2 separate regions of the Homo sapiens genome follow, and region 2 is linked to region 1. Evidence: fine-mapped expression QTL. A gene starts in region 1. The other region holds a variant in brackets. All regions are shown on one strand. Distances are from middle to middle.

What was found. PIP is the estimated chance that this variant, and not a neighbour inherited with it, causes the effect.
Region 2: its variant is fine-mapped to the expression of ADAMTSL3 in iPS cells (HipSci, PIP 0.95).

Annotation. Positions count from the first base shown.
Region 1 is chr15:83,649,471-83,658,824 of GRCh38, forward strand. ADAMTSL3 (ADAMTS like 3) reads left to right here and starts at 4,653. Exons shown (of 30, transcript NM_207517.3): 1 at 4,653-4,806; 2 at 6,259-6,360. The coding sequence starts at 6,292. RefSeq lists an enhancer at 3,122-3,291.
Region 2 is chr15:83,698,783-83,708,136 of GRCh38, forward strand. ADAMTSL3 (ADAMTS like 3) reads left to right here. Exons shown (of 30, transcript NM_207517.3): 3 at 5,607-5,726. Among named protein-coding and RNA genes, the nearest start is that of ADAMTSL3, 49 kb to the left of the region's middle. The variant C/CA (reference allele first, on the strand shown) is at 5,221.

The DNA of each region.
Region 1 (9,354 bases):
TTACCTATCCTGCTTCCCTCACTCCTTCATAGGTTTTTCCTGAAGAACACTCGCTAGCTAATTTTGTGCCCCTAAGGCACTATGTTCACCTAACATCCAGATGTGTTCTTTTTTTTTTTTTTGAGATAGAGTCTCGTTCTGTTGCCCAGGCTGCAGTGCAGTGGTGTGATCTCAGCTCACTGCAACCTCTGCCTCCCAGTTCAAGTGATTCTCCTGCTTCAGCCACCCGTGTAGCTGGGACTACATGTGCACGCCACCATGTCTGGCTAATTTTTGTATTTTTTAGCAAAGATGGGGTTTCACCATGTTGGCCAGGCTGGGTTCGAACTCCTGACTTCAAATGATCTGCCCGCCTCGGCCTCCCAAAGTGTTGGGATTACAGACATGAGCCACCGCACCTGGCCCCAGATGTGTTATCTCTTAGTGGCCTTGGCTGAGAGTGTATCTTTGGTGTCTGCTGCAGTCAATGGTAACTTCTATTGGAGTACTTGCCTCCAAGTACTCTTTTTCTCCAAGCCTCCAACACAGCGTTCTTGAGTGTGCTTCCCAAGCCCACTTCACAACTCTGTAACCAGAAAGAGCATTTCTGTTTCAAGAACAAATTAAGGCTGATGCCTGAATTGATATTCCTTGTCTCTAAGGGTAAAACCTAAACACACCCCAACACCACCATCATCAATAGTTCCTTTCCTGATCTTCAATGTGTATCTCTCACGTGAATGTTGTACTGTGTGCTTGTTGGGTTGAGGTCAACAGGCAAAGCTGGGAGCAGGCAAAGCTGGGAGCGCGGGCAGGAATCTCTGAAATTCATCTAGGAAGAAGCAGGTCCTGAGACAGGTAGTGAAAGCCAGGAAGCCAAGAAGTTGGATCTTAGGGAGGAAATGGAACTCAGTTTCCTCGACCCTTCAGAGTCTAAATGCATTGCCATTGTCCCCAGGTGGTGGGTGTTCTCACAGGGAGGAAGTCCAGGAAGTAGGCAGGGAGGGGCCTGAACCTCCCCAGATAGTGATTGGGTAGGTGGCTACACTCAACAGCCAAATCAGCCAGATTAGCTGCTTTGGGGTTTATTCATTCCTGTTCTTCCCAATTCCTGATCTCCCACCACACCATGCCTTTGGCAATGTCTTATTTAAACATTTGGGCCAAGCCTCAGGTGAGGAAGTAAGGATGGGAGGGAAGTGTGGGTGAGTGACTGAGGGAAGGGGTGAGGGAAGAGGTGACTGAGGGGTGGTGAGGCCATGATTCTGCGCATAACATCTGTGAAGTCCAGCCAGCACCCCCAGTGGAGGCTGTCCTCTGCAGCTCTTTGTTGTCCTAACTTACAGTACCTTGGCCACTCACACAGGTTTGCTTGACCTGCTAGGGTTAACTGGAAGGCAAAAGTTCTATAAAGGTATTGGTGATGTTTTCTCTACTACTTTTCGCTACTGGAACACCTGCTCTTTGAGGGGGCTGGCCTCCTGCTAGATGGAACCTGTGGGAGAGAAAGGCTCAGTCCTGGTCTTAGTACTTGGTGTGGGGCACTCCTTGGAGGCTGGCTCAGGAGTCAGATTGCCCAAGGGAGATGAGACAGGAAGTCCTGCTGAGCCATTAATACCTTAAAACAGAGCAGTGCATCTCAAATGTTCCCAGCAAAGTCCCCCAACTCCAGAGGCATTCTCAGTGACTTCTTGAGTTGCAGACACCGGGAGCTCTGCTTAATGCAGCCACCACTGCACAAGCATAATATTTCTTTGAATTCTCCATTTCATCTTGCATATTCATGTGACTTTTTTGCATTTGACTCCATGATATGGTGGGGCTAGTTTTAGAATATGAACGATGAGGAGTGGTATCGTCTAGTTGCTAAGAACATGAGGTATTTAAACCTTTCCACTTCAGTTTCCTCATTTGCAAAATGGGAATAAAAATAATATCTACCCCATAGGCTGTTGTGATGATGGGATGACTCGGTATAAGCAAAGTATCTGGAACAGTGCCTGCCACATCCTAAGTGTTTTGAATGTTAATGTGGCTATTCCTTTACTGATACTCTGATATGAGAAGCACGAAAAATCAATTCTCATTATTTGCAGATTCCTTATTGTGAATTCAGCTACTGGGTAAAATTTATTTGTCACCTCCGTTAAATTAAGTTTAGCCTAAAGTTGCCTTCTTACATATTTTAAGTTCGGCCTAAAGGTCTCTCTGTACATAGTAAACTGTAACCTGATGATGTGTAAACAGACTGTAACCTACTCTTGAAGCAGTCACAGAGTTTTGGCCAATCACAGGCGGTCAACTGTTTAAACCATGTTTAAATAAGGCAAATGCCGAGCTGTAACCAATCCAGCTGTTTCTGTACCTCATTTCCGTTTTCTGTTCATCATATTCCGTTTTCTATCCATAAATATTATCTGACTATGTGGAAGCCCCAGAGTTGCTCTGAATCTATTTTGTTTTGGGGCTGAGGGGGGCTGCCCTATTTTCAAATTGTTCTTTGCTCAATTAACCTCTGTTAAATTTGTCTAAAGTTTTTATTTTAACACCTCATAATCAATAGCTGCAGCACTTTCAAAGTCATTGAACCAGTGCTGAACGTTTTGAGTCTCTTGAGACACATGTTGGAAGCTAAGGTCCAACCAGTCAACCCTCTGTCTTCTTGTTTCAGCTTTCACACTGTAAATGAGTGGCCCAAAAGTTCTCTTCATTGCCATGTTTTCACATTTTTTTGGTCTTTTTTTTGATGATTTTGCTGCTTAAAGCACCCCCCAGGCACAGTGCTGAAGTGAAGTCTAGCGTTCCTAAGTGGAAGAAGGCTGGGATGTGTGTTGCAGAGAAAATACGTAAGTTAGATAAGCTTCATTCAGGCATGAGTTACAGCACTGTAGGCTGTGAGCTCAGTGTTCAGGAATCAACAATAGATGTTAAGTAAGGCGTCTTTAAACAGAAACATGCATAAAATAAGGCAATGTGTTGATTGATTGACAAAAATATTGTGAGCTTGCAGGAACCCAACTCTATATTTCCCCTAGGAACAATGGCTCCATATTCACAAATTCGTTGTTCTGTGACTTTATAGACCACAACTACAGTAAATAAAAAGGATCGATTGTCCATAGATGAGTTAGTTCTAGTTTAGCCCAGCCCTCCCTACCCTTCACTGGCTACTCTTACCTCTCCTGTCTCCACACTGACCTGTCCTCTGCTCACTTGCCACAAGTCCAATCATTTTACATAGAGTGGAGAGACAGCCTTGAAGATCCTCTTCTTGGTCAGAGGAAGTCACCAGAGTAAGTAAGGGAAGAATGAGTGAGGAAAGCAGGCAGGGCCAATTGCTCTTGGCAAAGCTCTAGCAGTAACCGGAACGCAGCAACCACAGAGAAGGCAGGAGAACAACTTTAGGGGTGAACAGTCCAGGCTCTAGAGAGAGGCAGATAGGGGTTCCAGTCCTGGCTTCTCCACTCATGGTGGGCAAGTTATCCTCCCAGCCTCAGATTTATCCTAGGTGAAATGGGATAATGCTCGAACTACTGCTGCTGTGAAGATCAGATAGACACAAAGAGCTTGGTACTCGACAGACACCCAAGGAAATGGCGACTGTGGTAGGACTTAGGTGGGGGCATAATGCAGCCTTTAAGATCAATCTCCTGGCCCTTGGCTTATCCTGCTGGGACTAGGACAAGGACAGGGACAAACATTTCCTTTTACTTCTCCTCACCTCCAGAAGTACACAGGCAACTCACCCCAGTCTCTTGTCCGCGACACTCTTCCCCCCAACCCCAAATCCCAGGCCTGGACACGGCATGATTCTGGCACCTGTGGAGCTCTCAGTTCCCCAAGCCCGGCTCAGACAAGGAGGCGCCAGGTACCCAGTTAAGAGGCGCTCCTGCAAGATCCTCGTGGTCCCTGGCTGCCAAAGGTCCCAGGCCTCTGGGCAGTGAGCGCTCCACAGTCCCTTGTGTGGCGTCTATGCTGCGCGGAGGAGGCGCAGGCCAGGAGAGGGCCATTGGTCTCCACTATGGTCCTGCCTGGCCAGGAGTGCCTATGGCTCTTAGGCACGAGCCAGCGGTTCCGGGCAAACCTCTGTGTGGCTGCTGGGCCTGACTTTGCAGAGCTGGCGCCCGGGTCTGGGCGGGGTGGGTGGAGGCTATGGGAGGTGGGGCCGGGGGTGGGCTCGGGGGGAGCGACGGCATCCCTGCTCCGGCTCCGGCTGAGGCGGGGCGGCCAGGCTGGCTTGCGGCGCAGCGGCCGCCTTTCCCCAGTGCGCCTGCCGGCGGCGGCGGTGGCGGCGTCGGCAATCCCGGCTCTTGGCACAACGCCTGGCGGCCGGCCCAGGGCGAGGAGTGGCTTCCAGGAAGCGGGCGGAGGAGCGTTCCAGCCGAGTCCCGCCGTCGCCGCGGCCCCGCGCGCTCCGAGCGGCCCGGGCCTGGCCCCACACGGCGTCTCTTCGCGCCCCCGGCGCCTCCAGCTCAAGCCGAGGGCGCGGTGCCGGCGCGCAGGCTGACGGGCGCCTGGGCGCGCCGTGCACTTGCCGGGCGGTGCAGGTGGCGGCGCGCGCCCTCCGCCTCTGGGCCGGGGCCAGCGCAGCGCTCTGCGCGCCCGGAGGGGGCGGGAGAGGCGGGGCAGCCCCCGTCCCAGCCCCATTTAACTTCGCGGCGGCGGCGGCGACTGCGGCGCCGCGGGCTGGAGGCCGGCGTCGGGGAAGGTCCTGGTGCCGGATTCCGCACGAGGTGTTGACGGGCGGCTTCTGCCAACTTCTCCCCAGCGCGCGCCGAGCCCGCGCGGCCCCGGGGCTGCACGTCCCAGATACTTCTGCGGCGCAAGGTGGGTGCACCGAGCTCGGCGCAGGGCGGCCCCTCAGGGGTCGGGGGAAGGCGCTCCCCAGAGGGAGTAAGACTTGGAGCAGTGGCCTCTCTAAGCAAGTTGGGGGTCTCCAAGCAGAGTCGGGGCGTGCCACGCGGGCCCCAGGGGGCCTCAGGACTGGGGTGCTCCTCACTGCTGGGCACCTCGGGTCGGGCGCGCTTCGTGCCGTCCCGGAAGGTTCAGGGAGAGTCTTTCGGCGGCAGTTCGCGGGCTGAGGGGCGTTCTTGATTATGGGGGAACTCCACAGGGTTGGAGTTTTTCAGGATTGGGAGTTACTAAGCAGAAACCTCGCGGGTCCGAAGGTCCGGCCGGTTGACCACTGGGTAGCGAGCGCCCAGAACGCCGGGGGTTGAGGCGACGCGCGATCGTGGAAAGTGGGCGTGGGGGTGACCGGGACGCGGCGGAGGCACTGGAGGAGCGACTTCGAGGCAGCGGGTAGTCGGAGGAGTGTGCACTCGGAAGGCTGGTGCGAGCAGGCGAGGGTGGCGCAGAGTCCCAGGGCCCCGCACTGGCCGCCTCCCTTCAGCCAGGAGTCGCCGCCTCAGGTCGGAAACAGCAGCACATTTGCGGATCACATTAGACCAGGCCCTTAATGCCTTCTCCAGATGGAGAGAAGCCACCGACCCGCCCCCGGACACCAGCTCCGCCAAGGCGCCCGCGAGGCGAAGCGGGAGTCGAGTGTGACCTCGGCTTTTCCAGTCTCGACTCATACTGATTTCCCTGTAAATTGACAGGAAAAGTAAGGGAAAAAGTCCCCGCTTCCCTCCTGGTTTCAGCTGACCTCTGCTGGCTGGCCCTCACCTACTTTTAGGAGATTGTGTTAGGCTGGCTCAGGGGCTGTGTCCTCCAAACCTCCCTGAACTTAGCTCTCAGGCGTCTCTCTGGGTGTGGGTCCCGGACCTCGAGGGCGCACGGTGTCATCTAGCGAGGAAAGCCTTGAACTATCAGAAGATCTGCGTTTCAGCCCTAAAATGTCACTATCTTGCTGTGTGACCTTAGGCAGGTCCTTTCCCTCTCTGGGCGGCTTTGTTGTCTTAGACTCATTTTTGCCGCGAGCAGCAGAAGCTAGCCTAAACCTTGGCTCTGTGCTGGCTTCCTGAGTCAAATGCCAATAGCGACACCCTGCTGCTGACAGATAGGCTTGGGCAGGGATATCTCAGCTTCTGAAGAGCTGGAGGTATGAGATGCCCACTGGAGACAGGTCCAGCCCTCGCCTGACTTTGTTGTGGACCTTCTAAAGGGAGCCCAGTTAGCCTGCACCCTGCAGTAGGCAGCGGCAACCTGGGCCAACACAAACCTTTCCAAAATAGTATATGGGCTTCAGGGTCCCTCCATCTAATGGGTCGCTTAAGTCACGGTTTACTGCCATGGGGGCCAGAGCTGGTTGGTAATGAACTCTTTCCTCGTTTGTAGGCTACAACTGAGACCCGGAGGAGACTAGACCCCATGGCTTCCTGGACGAGCCCCTGGTGGGTGCTGATAGGGATGGTCTTCATGCACTCTCCCCTCCCGCAGGTAAGGTCATATAGGGAGGGGAAGGGAAATGGTGGACATCCCTCTGTTTACTCAGAGGCATTATTGTATACCACCTAAGATGTGGCATGATTAGTGTTAATCCTACACCAGAGAACCAGACTTTCTTTCCTATCTCTAGCCAATGGTATTTCTGGTTGGCTTAGCTGTAAGGATTATCCAGATCCCTTGGGTCCTCTCTGAATCCTGAGTAGGGCTTTAATAGCACTGTGGATACCATACACCGGTGATGACCTGGGGCTGTGATGGACCCTGTCATTTCAGACTAGAATGGCTGTCTGCATGTGCCCAGCAGAGGCTGGGTTGCTGGAGACCAGGAAACAATGGGCAGAGCCAGGTTCTGGCCCTAGCTAAGCTGCTAAATAAATATTCTGAGTTTACATCTATCATCACATATCCCACTGTTTTATCCCACAGTCCTCTCTTTAGACTTCTGCTGTCTTTTCCAACCAACTTGAGAGGACCCGGCTCATGAATTGCATCTTTATTTGCCTAAAGGACAGACTCAAACAAAGGAATGAGGCTAGCATTGCCTAAGAGACAATAGAGAGTAACGGAGACAGTGGCAAAGTGCAGAACGCGTGCTCCATCTATTAAGAGCAGTCTCTACTCAATTCCATCTGATCGTTGCTAAGTGGAGACATAAGCCCAGGATTGCCAGATCTTATTTTTCAAGATAGCTGGATCATCTAGACTTCTTACAAAATTTCCCAGTTTTTAAAGTATTGAAAGGCAGATAAATGTGTTTGCAGCCTGGATTCAGCCAAGCAGTTTGCAGCCCCAGATCTAAAGGCAGGGCACATCTTAGTATTGTGTCCCAAGGGCTGCTGCTAGCTCCATACAGTGTCTTATGAATTAGAACAAGGCAATCCCTCCCTGCAGACATAGCTTCTCAAATACATGGCTTGGTGGCCTGTGTACCCTCAGGGTCTCGGAAGGGACTTGTCACTTAAGGGCTTAAATGTCTGTTAAATAAACATGCATCCATGAATGAAGATATATACCCTGGGATAAATTAATCAGACTCCTCTGCCTCTTGTTTCACTTTCTTGGACTTAGTGCCTCTAAAGCCTCTTTTGGCTCCAATGCCCTGTGAATTCTGTGATGCACAAAGAACTGGTCAGCAAGGTACATCTTCTCCCCACTATCCCATTTTATCGATACTATCCCATAATCATATTAATAGAGCTCTTTTGTTAGAACAAAAGTTAAGTCTTTTCAGGATGATGTTAGGGTTCTCTGGCCAGCGAGATGACTGTTGAGGTAAAAGCGTGGAGACTTACGTTTCTGTCTCATCAGCGGATCTGAAACAGGCTTTGAGAGCTTCAGAGATTTGTTCCTGGTCAAATGGGGCTGAGGCTTCAAGGCACAGTGTTCATTTTGCCTTCTTTCACCTTATAAAATTTAAATATGCTTTGAGGCAGTCTGTTGACCTTTGGCCAAGGGCAGTGTTTGCCCAGCTTGAATCACTCACTGACCTCTTTTGGATTTTTCCATATCTGTGTGCCTGTGGCAGTGCTGTTTCCATGTATCCAGGCAGTGTGCATAGAAGGTCATAAAAGGAGATTTCAGACCAGCAGTCTTCATCATTCACGCCACTCACTGTTCGGATCCCAGCTCTACCACTTCATTACTGTGTCACGCAAACGTCTCTGCATCGCATCTCAGTTTTCACATCTATACAGAGGAGATAATATTAGTATAGACCTCAGAATTGTTTGGAAGAGTTAATCCATTGTGAAGTGGAAAAAAGTGAAAAACCAAACCAAACAATGTCTGGCACATAGTAAGTGTACAATAAATGTCAGCATTCTGCTGTTGCTGCTGCTTGTCAGCATTAGAAGCTTGAAGCAAGCGCAGTGCCTGTATTTTCTGGTGTAGAGCCTGTAGGGGGCACTCAAGAGGTATCAGCTGTGGAGGGCCTGATCTTCAGGGAGTGTGGGTGGGCATGGCTAGGTCTGTCTCACCAGAGGCCCTGAGAAAAGGTTCTAATGAAGGGTGGTAGGTCAGCCCTGTGTCCCTGTCCGTGGGTTGGATGCTCTGTTTTTTCCGTAGGGTCAGCCTGGGTTTGACTCAAGGCCGCCCTTTCTGAAGTATCTTGTGATTTTGGTGTTTGGGTGGGGCTTAAGGTGTTCCCTGGCGTCTACCCTTGCTTCGTATGTGCTGCCACCAAGGTGGTTGTTAGAAAACTGCTAGATGTGTGAGGCTGAGCTGTGAGGAGCAAGGGATGTGCCAACTAATTAATAACAAATAGAGTTTCCTTTCTTTTCTTTTCTTTTGAGACATGGTTTCACACTGTTGCTCAGGCTAGAATGCAGTGGCATGATCTCAGCTCACTGCAACCTCTGCTTGCTGGGTTCAAGCAATTCTCGTGTCTCAGCCTCTGAGTAGCTGGGACTACAGGCGCACACTACCACATCCAGCTAATTTTTGTATTATCGGTAGAGATGAGGTTTTGCCATGTTGGCCAGGCTGGTCTCGAACTCCTGACCTCAAGTGATCTGCCCACCTCGGCCTCCTAAAGTGCTGGGATTACAGATGTGAGCCACTGCGCCCGTCCACAAATATATTTTCTTTATTGAATCAGCTAAAATGTAAACTCTTATATTCACTGCCCACAAATAATTGTGAGAGATTGTAGAACAAGGTAAGAGGCTGGTAGTTCCTTGTTTTTGTAACTCGTTCTTGACCATTCCTCGAGGAGCTCACTGTTCCCCTCATCCAGGCAGCTGGAGCGGCCTCCCCTCTTCCTGTCTCACAGGCCCTGGAAGCTTCCTGTTGCTCCAGGCTTCTCCTTAGGGATCTGATTTTCCCAGAGAAGACAGCAGCTGCTGTTCCTACTCTCTCTTCCAGCCTGGAGTATTTGAAAGCTTTTCAAACTTTATCCAGCCTGGAGTATTTGAGAGCTTTCCAAACTTTATCTAGCCTGGAGTATTTGAGAGCTTTCCAAACTTTATCCTGAACACCTTGAAGATG
Region 2 (9,354 bases), 49 kb after region 1:
CTACCCTTGTCAAAGTCAACGTTGACTTCCCTGTTGCTAGATCCAAGGGATACTTCTCTGGCCTCATCTTCCTCAGTTTCTTAGCAGCATTCAAGACACTTGACTATTCTGTTTGACGCTAAATCTTCCCATGACCTAATATAGGGTGTTTTCCTTTTTATTCTACTCTAATTGATGTTCATTTTTAGTCTCTTCTGCTTGCTCCTCCTCTTCTACTTAATTTCAAATATTAGAATTGAGGGTGTCAGGCAAAGCCCTCTTGCCTGCCAAACTCTTTCTCTAGGGAGTGGCTTTTCTGGTATAATGGTTGTAAATATATGTAAATATACATACATACATACATACATTATGAAAATGTTAAGTGATGACTTCCAAATCCCTATCTCCAGCGTCAGATTTCCTTTCTGAGCTCTGGACTTGCATATTGAATGGCAAACTCAAGCTCTTCACATGGATGTTTTATGGACACCTCCAACTTAACATGACTCAAACAGAACTGTTGACTCTATCCTCACCAACAAATCAGTTTCTGCCTCAGGGCTATCCATCCATTACAATTCCTTTACAGCCATTGCTCAAGCCAAAAACCCAGAAGTCACCCTTGATTCCTCCCTTTTCCTCCCTCATCGGAAAGCTTTGTTGGTTCTACTTCTAATCCATGCACCTCTCCCCTTCTCTACTGCCATCATCCCAGTCCAAGGAACCATCCCTTTTCACCTGGGTTAGTACCAACAGCCTTCCAACTAGTCTTTGTGATTCCACTTTACCTTCTTCTAGCTCAGTCTCCACAAAGCAGTCAGTGTTGTTTAAATACTCTTCTATTGTTCTCCGTCTCCTTACCATAAGGCTTTAAATGTCTTGGGTGGCTTTTCCCTTCCTTCTTTATCCATTTCGTGCCACTGTTACTTGTCCGCACTGAATTCAGCCACACTCTAGTTCTTCCAATTCACTGACTTCCTTTCCACTTTGGAGCTTTTGTACTTGCTCTTCTTTTGCCGGTAATACTCATCCTTAGCTTTTTCCATAACTGGCTCCTCCTGTTTGAGGTATCATCTGAAATCTTATCTTCCCATGGATGCCTTTTTTGACCATCTTATCTAAAATTGAACAGTCCTCTCCCAACATTATTCTCATATCACCTTGTTTATTTCCTTTAGAACTTAGAATGTTAGTTTTCTTATTTATGTATTTGTTTACTTATTTTACTATGTATCTCCACCTCTAGGATGTAACCTCCATGAAAATAGGAACCTGATCTTTTTTGTTCCTCATTGTATCTATCGCACTGAGAACTGTGCCAGGCATATATTAGGTGCTCAATAAATATGTGTTGAATGCATGGTCAACTGAATATAAGCATCACACTGGAAGGTCCACTATATGCGGGAAGCTGTTTTAAGGTGGCGATCTTTGACTGCTTCCACTCTGGTAAATGGATCTGTCCAGGTATTGGCACATGGCTGCTAACAGGTTCCAGCCCTGGCTGTAAGCCTGCGTCTGTTCCTCAAACTCACTGACCTCCTTTCTATTTTAGGGCTTTTGCACTTGTTCTTTTTTTGTGTGCCAGGAATAGTCACTGTCAGATTTGGTGATTGGTTAGTCTCCTAACTCTCAGAGCTATAGTTTACTCATTTTTAAAATAAGGAGTTTGACCTAGATGACTTCTAAGGTCTCTTTAGGTATTTAAAATGATGATTCTGGCTGGGCGCGGTGGCTCATGCCTGTAATCCCAGCACTTTGGGAGGCCAAGGCGGGCAGGTCGCCTGAGATTAGGTGTTCGAGACCAGCCTGGCCAACATGGTGAAACCCCGTCTCTACTAAAAATACAAAAATTATCCAGGCATGGTGGTGGGCACTTGTAATCCCAGCTACTAGGAAGGCTGAGGCAGGAGAATTGCTTGAACCTGTGAGGCGGAGAGTGCAGTGAGCTGAAATCACGTCACTCAATTCCAGCCTGGGTGACAGAGCAAGACTCCGTCTAAAAAAAATTAAAGTAAAAAAAATAAAGTGATGATTGAAGCCAGTAAGAGCAATTAGCAATAGTGGTGCTAAATCTCTCACATAAATGAAATTTAATAAGAAAGTCTTCAAATTATTTTAACAGTCTAGTGCTATCTAAGCCATCTAGTCTAGTGGAGTTATCTCTTCTATATTCCTTGACAGAATGATGTTGATTTCCCTTTCTAAAACACAGTATTCAGAGGGACGTTTTAGCGTAAACTATAGTTCCTGCTGCAGTTTGAGAATGAGTCCATTGGAGCAGCAGAGGTGTCAGAGGAATATGTTTACTCCCTGCTTCTCCTGTTTGCAGAGAGCAATTTTCTTAGAGTAACACCTGTGGCCTCTTAATTTATTTCTGACTCATTTCTTCCCAAGCAGGGGGAGTGAGGTATCCAGTCGGGGGTATAGTCACAGATCCATGTATTTTTGACTGGATGGGGCTAAGCTCTGCAGATTCTATCTCCTTTATTACTTTCCTCCTTGAAGCAATCAAGGCAGTGATCCTGGTAAACCCTCTACCTCCTCAGTCTTCCCTTGGACAGGCTCTCCCAGGAGGTGGGTGATAGTGTGATGGTAGCAAGTCCATTGGGTCATCATATCCCAGCCATATTCCCCTAAAGAGGGTGTCCTTTCTGACCCCCTCAGACTCCAACCATTGTGATTTATGTCCAGTGATTCAGATGCCAGGTAATATGGTTTGATTCTGTGTCCCCACCCAAATCTCATCTTCAATTGTGCTCTCATAATTCCCACATGCTGTGGGAGAGACCCGGTGGGAGATAATTTGAATCATGGGGGAGGTATCCCCCATACTGTTCTCATGGCAGTGAATAAGTCTCACAAGATCTGATGGCTTTATCAATGGTTTCCACTTTGCATCCCTTCATTTTCTCTTGCCACCATCATGTAAGAAGTGCCTTTTGCCTCCTGCCATGATTCTGAGGCCTCCCCAGCCATGTCGAACTGTAAGTCCAATTAAACCTCTTTTTCTTCCCAGTCTCGAGTATGTCATTACCAGCAGCATGAAATTGGACTAATTCAGTAAATTGGCACCAGTGGAATCGGGTGCTGCTGAAAAGATACCTGAAAATGTAGAAGCAACTTTGGAACTGGGTAACAAGCAGAGGTTGGAACAGTTTGGAGGGCTCAGAAGAAGACAGGAAAATGTGGGAAAGTTTGGAACTCCGGAGAGACTTGTTGATTGCCTTTACCAAAATGCTGATAATGATATGAATGAAAAGGTCCAGGCTGAGGTGGTCTCAGATAGAGATGAGGAACTTCTTGGGAACTGGAGCAAAGGTGACTCTTGTTATGTTTTGGCAAAGAGACTGGTGGCATTTTGCCCCTGCCCTAGAGATTTGTGGAACTTTGAACTTGAGAGAGAAGATTTAGGGTACCCGGTGGAAGAAATTTCTAAGCAGCAAAGCATTCAAGAGATGACTTGGATACTGTTAAAGGCATTCAGTTTAAAAAGGGAAACAGAACATAAAAGTTCAGAAAATTTGCAGCCTGACTATGCAATAGAAAAGAAAAACCCATTTTCTGGGGAAAAATTCAAGCTGGCTGCAGAAATTTCCATAAGTAGTAAGGAGCCTAATGCTAATTCCCAGAACTATGGGGAAAATGTCTCCAGGGCATGTCAGAGACCTTCATGGCAGCCCCTCCCATTACAGGCCTGGAGGCCCAAGAGGAAAAAGTGGTTTTGCGGGCTGGGCCCTGGGTCCCTTGGCTGTGTGCATCCTAGGGACCTGGTGCCCTGTGTCCCAGCTGCTCCAGCTATGGCTGAAAGGGGCCAATGTAGAGCTCGGGCTGTGGCTTCAGAGGGTGGAAGCCCCAAGTCTTGGCATCTTCCTTGTGATGTTGAGCCTGCAACAGAAGTCAAGAATTGAGGTTTGGGAACCTCTGCCCAGATTTCAGAGGTTGTATGGAAACACCTGGATGCCCAGGCAAAAGTTTGCTGCAGGGGCGGGGCCCTCATGAAGAACCTGTGCAATAGCAGTACGGAAGGGAAATGTGGGGTCGGAGCCCCCATACAGAGTTCCTACTGGGGCACTGCCTAGTGGAGCTGTGAGAAGAGGGCTACTGTCCTCCAGACCCCAGAATGGTAGATCCACTGACAGCTTGGACCATGTTCCTCGAAGAGCCACAGACATTCAACGCCTGCCTGTGAAAACAGCTGGGAGAGAGGCCATACCCTGAAAAGCCACAAGGGTGGAGTTGCCCAAGACCATGAGAACCCACCTCTTGCCTCAGCGTGACCTGGACATGAGACCTGGAGTGAAAGGAGATCATTTTGGAGCTTTAAAATTTGACCGCCCCACTAGATTTTGGACTTGCATGTGCCCTGTAACTCCTTTGTTTTGGCCAATTTCTCCCATTTGGAATGGCTGTGTTTATCCAATACCTATACCCTCATTGTATCTAGGAAGTAACTAGCTTGCTTTTGAATTTACAGGCTTATAGGCAGAAGTGACTTGCCTTGTCTCAAATGAGACTTTGGACTGTGGACTTTTTGGTTAATGCTGAAATTAGTTAAGACTTTGGGGGACTGTTGGGAAGGCATGATTGGTTTTGAAATGTGAGGACATGAGATTTGGAGGGGCCAGGGGTGGAGTGATATGGTTTGGCTCTGTGTCCCCACTCAAATCTCATCTTGAATTGTACTCCTATAATTCCCATGTGTTGTGGGAGGGACCCGGTGGGAGATAATTTGAATCATAGGGACAGTTTCCCCCATACTGTTCTCGTGATAGTGAATAAGTCTCACGAGATCTGATGGTTTTATCAGGGGTTTCCGCTTTTGCATCCCTCTCACTTTCTCTTGTGGCCGTCATGTCGGAAGTGCCTTTCACCTCCTGCCATGATACTGAGGCCTCCCCAGCCACGTGGAACTCTAAGTCCAATTAAACCTCTTTTTCTTCCCAGTCTCGGGTATGTAGTTATCAGCAGCATGAAAACGGACTGGGGTATGAGCTTTCCATGAACTAAACACAGTCTACAATATGCATGTTTATTTAAGCTTGGATTTTTAAACAAAGCATTATGAAGAAAAAGTCTCAAAGGAAATACACCAAAACAATTAACAGTGGTTATTACAGGTTGAAAAGATTATGGGTGATTTTATTTTCTTCTGTGCTCATTTATATGTTCTAAAGTTTCTACAATGAAGTGCATTTTTGTTGTAGTATGGGAGAAAATTTTTGTTTCTCACTCCTTTGC[C/CA]AAAAAAAAAAAAAAACACAAAAGGAAGAAGAAAAGAAAATCCTAAAAACAATAGATTTGCAACAACAAGACAAAGTTAACTACTCTGTGACTGAATTGCTGGAAGATGGGGAGCAGAGGTAGCGGGGAGGGGGAGAGAGGCAGGTGTCAGAGAATAAATGCCATGGCTGCCAGTTTGATTCGGGCCACTGTGATATCCTGGCCTAACAGTGCCCTGACACACCTGGTGTGCCTCACCCTGGTCTTTGCCAAGAGAGGTCACTTCCCTTTTTGTTTCTTGGTACAGCTATTAATGGTGGATTCTCCTGGAATGGCCTTCTTGGACTTTACCTGTCAGGGGGTCCTTACTGGAGCCTTATTTGTGACCAAATGATCTTGTTTTTCAGACCACAGCTGAGAAATCTCCTGGAGCCTATTTCCTTCCCGAGTTTGCACTTTCTCCTCAGGGAAGTTTTCTGGAAGACACAACAGGGGAGCAGTTCCTCACTTATCGCTATGATGACCAGGTAAGAACATTGGACAAGGATCTACCTTTGGCTTTGCTGTTTGCCAGTGGTCAGGAAACTGTCTCTAAAAGACCTTCAAAGTAATTATATTTTCCTCTTTGCAATACAAGTACAACAGACCCTTGACACCCTTGAAGGATCCCAGAATATGTGGATTGCCCATGTTTGCATGTAATTTCCTATATAATGTGCAGTTCTTTCTCTGCATTTGCATAAAAGTCACTTTTTCTTATTTTCATCAGAAATATATGATGGATTTGTTCATCTCAGCTATCACCACATTGATGATTCAATTCTGAAATTATCCAAAATTCTGTTTTCTGCTTATGTGTTACTTCTTTGCCCTCAGCTTTTACTTCATTTCTTTTACCAGCACCAATGTTGCATGCTTTTTTCCCCAAGATTACTTTTCAGAAAGGAACACAGTGTGAATGCCTGTGTGTGCATATGTCTGTGAGTGTGTGTGTGTGTGTGTGTGTGTGTGTGTGTGTTGAAATCATTTTAGGAAGGCTAACTAGAGAAGAAGGCCTTGCTTGGCTGACATGTGTAAGCTGAGCACTGGAAGTTGTGATTCCCTTCCATCCTCAATTCACCTTGATGCCATAATAGCATTTAAGATTATCCATCTTTGAAATCACTCACAACTTGGTGAAACAGAGAGTTTCAACTTTGCCTAATGCAAAGCTGGTAAAGCCTGAATTTATGGGGCAGTTGAGCAAACCAGGGTGGACTTTAAGATGATGTAGGGCCTGGGTGGATCTGGCAGACCTCAGCACCTGTAGGGCCCAAGTGAAGGTGAGGAGCTGGGGCAAGATCACCTTCCCATGGTACGTGATAGAGTGGAGGGAGATGGCCCAGTGACTGAGGCCAGCTGTGCTCTCCTCAGCTGTATAGCCAAAGGCCAGTGCATCCTGGTTTGATTTAGGTAAAGCCTAGTCAGAGTGCAAAAGACAGTACTCAAAAGGAACAGCTCTGAGAAATTCAGTCTGCCAACATGGGTAGATCCAAGATGTGACCACAGGGAGTAGGACCCTGTTCTGAGGGCTGGCTGGAGCTAGGCAGAGTGCTGGAGGTGGGCTGGGAGAAGGATGAAAGTCTTGCAGAGCATCAGTGGCTGATGCAGGACGGAGATTAGAGCATAGAGGGCAGGTAGAGGAGTCTGTTGCTCAGTCCTCTATCTCCCAGCTCAGGGGAAGACACTGCACACTCTCCATCCTTGAGGCTGCTGCTCAGTGACCTACCCTTGGTGGGCTTCATTCCAGAGCTGGGACTGGGGTGAAGGTCAGGGCTGTGACCCTCCAGACCGCTGTGGGCAGGGAGCCACACTGGTCATTGGGGCAAGAGTGGGATGAGACCAATTTCTTACTCAAAATGTCAACATTCAATCATATTTTCAAGTTACTTTAAAAGTGAGTGAGTGCATTACTAGTCATTGTGGGGAGCAGGGGTGGGCTGGGGAATAATTCTATATTTGCATTGTAGAGCCCAAACATTTGGGCCTGGTTGCTAATAGGGGCTAAAACATCATTAAGTCACTTTCTGCCTTCCCCCTTCCCTTGATGGATTTTGAGAGGGTCTATAATTTATAGCTCCTTTTAATCCAGAAATCAATAATCCAACAGGTTTTCATATGAGAACTTCAGAGGAACTAATTGAGAGGGCCGTAAAGGATAAAAGCGGGTGTCTGGAAAATACCAAGCTATGCATTTTATAATTAAAGAGTGGTTAATGTCTTCTCCAGGTTCCACAGATACTTTATATTTAACATAATAACAATATAAAAGCTGGGAAAAGGGGAAAACAAGCCCCTTCAGTCTTTTCAAAAGGTCTAAAGCAGATCTGAAAAGTGTGTGGCATGCTGTGGAAATTTCATCCTAGGACATAGTGTTCCAGAAAGCCTCAGTGACTAGCATATGAAAACACTCTGTGTTGCCCCCACTGTGTATTTCTTTTAGGAGAAAGGAATAATTTGAGACTATAACAAGCCAATAATAGCACCCACTTTCCTCTACTAAAGGCACAGAAAATAGGCGCTTGGACTAAACTAGGTTTATCTATTGAATGAACCTCAGGAATTTAATCAGCTAGAGACTGTTAACCCACCAACCAAATCCTGATTCTCTTTCCTCTTTTTTCTTTTCTTTTTTTTTGAGATTGGGTCTTGTTCTGTCACCCAGGCTGAAGTGCAGTGGCATGATCACAGCTCACTGCAGCCTCAACCTCCCCACCCACACTTAGGTGATCCTCCTGCCTCAGCCCCCGCCCCCCACCCCAGGTAGCTGGGATTATAGGCATTAGGCATGTACCACCACCCCTGGATAATTTTTTTTGTCTGTATTTTGTAGAAATGAGGTTTTGCTATGTTGACCAGGTTGGCCTCAAACTCCTGGGCTCAAGCGATCTGCTCTCCTCGGCCTCCCAAAGCGTTGGGATTACAGGTGTGAGCCACTGCGCCTGGCCAATCCTCTTTTTTCTTAATGCTGAACATGCTTCTCAGGCACTGGGGAAAGGATAAAACCAATCAAATACTATCAAACTTTTAAAAAATCCCCTGATCCTTCAGCATATGACAAAACATTAAGATCAATTAAGAACAAAGTCTCTGGAGTCAGACTGCTTTGGGTTTGAATTTGATTTGTCAGTTCTGCCATTTGATTTGCTGTTTTACTTTGGACAAGTTACTTTACTTCCCTGTCCCTTAATTTTCTCATCTATGAAATGGAGATTTGGATGGTATCTACCTTATGTAGGCGTTAATTCATGTCTCCCTGCATAGGGCCTGGTACATATAAGCATTTAATTTAGCTATTGTTATTACTAAGAATGTTGTTTGCAAACACTCAATTCAAAGAATCTCAGATATGCTTATGCTAAAAGAAAGGAAGAAGTTAATTCTTACTTTAGGAGATCTCATGCAATATTTTCAATTAATTTTTTATTGAGCTATAACATATGTAAGTAAAACGCATACATATCTGAAGTATAGAGCTTGATGAATTTTTAAGTATTTTTACACCTGTGTAGTTGCTACCTAGATCAAGAAAATGAACATTTCTAGCACCCTAGGAGGCTCCTTGAACCTCTTTCCGATCAATATCCCACATTCAAGAAGTAACCACCATTCAGACTTTTATCAGTATTACAGATTCATTTTGCCTGCTTTTAATTTTATTTTTGATTTTATATAAATGGAATCATACACCACATACTCGTTTGTGTCTGGCTTCTTTCACACATCATTATGTCTGAGAGATTCAACCCAGTTGCTGGATCCAACATAATATAGGGTTTAATGTCTAGCAGCCAGTTGTACTCTTTGGAACAAATTGTCTCATGTTGGAACAAATTGCAGCATACTGGGTGGCATGCAGCATTACTCTTGCACAGAAATTCCCAGGTTGTCCCTAAAAGGTTTTCAGAGCAGTCTCTCCAAAGATTTCATACCTGGGGAAATGGTGGGGACAGTTTTCCAGTGTAGCCTTTGTTATATGCCAGCAGCCACCGGCATTCCACAGCCAGAAGTAGGTACAGGGTCTGTGTGAGTGGCTGCCAGGGCAGAACCTGTGTCAGGTGGCATGGGTACCTACCTGTGGAATCTCCATATATATATGCCAGGGGTGCTGTCCTG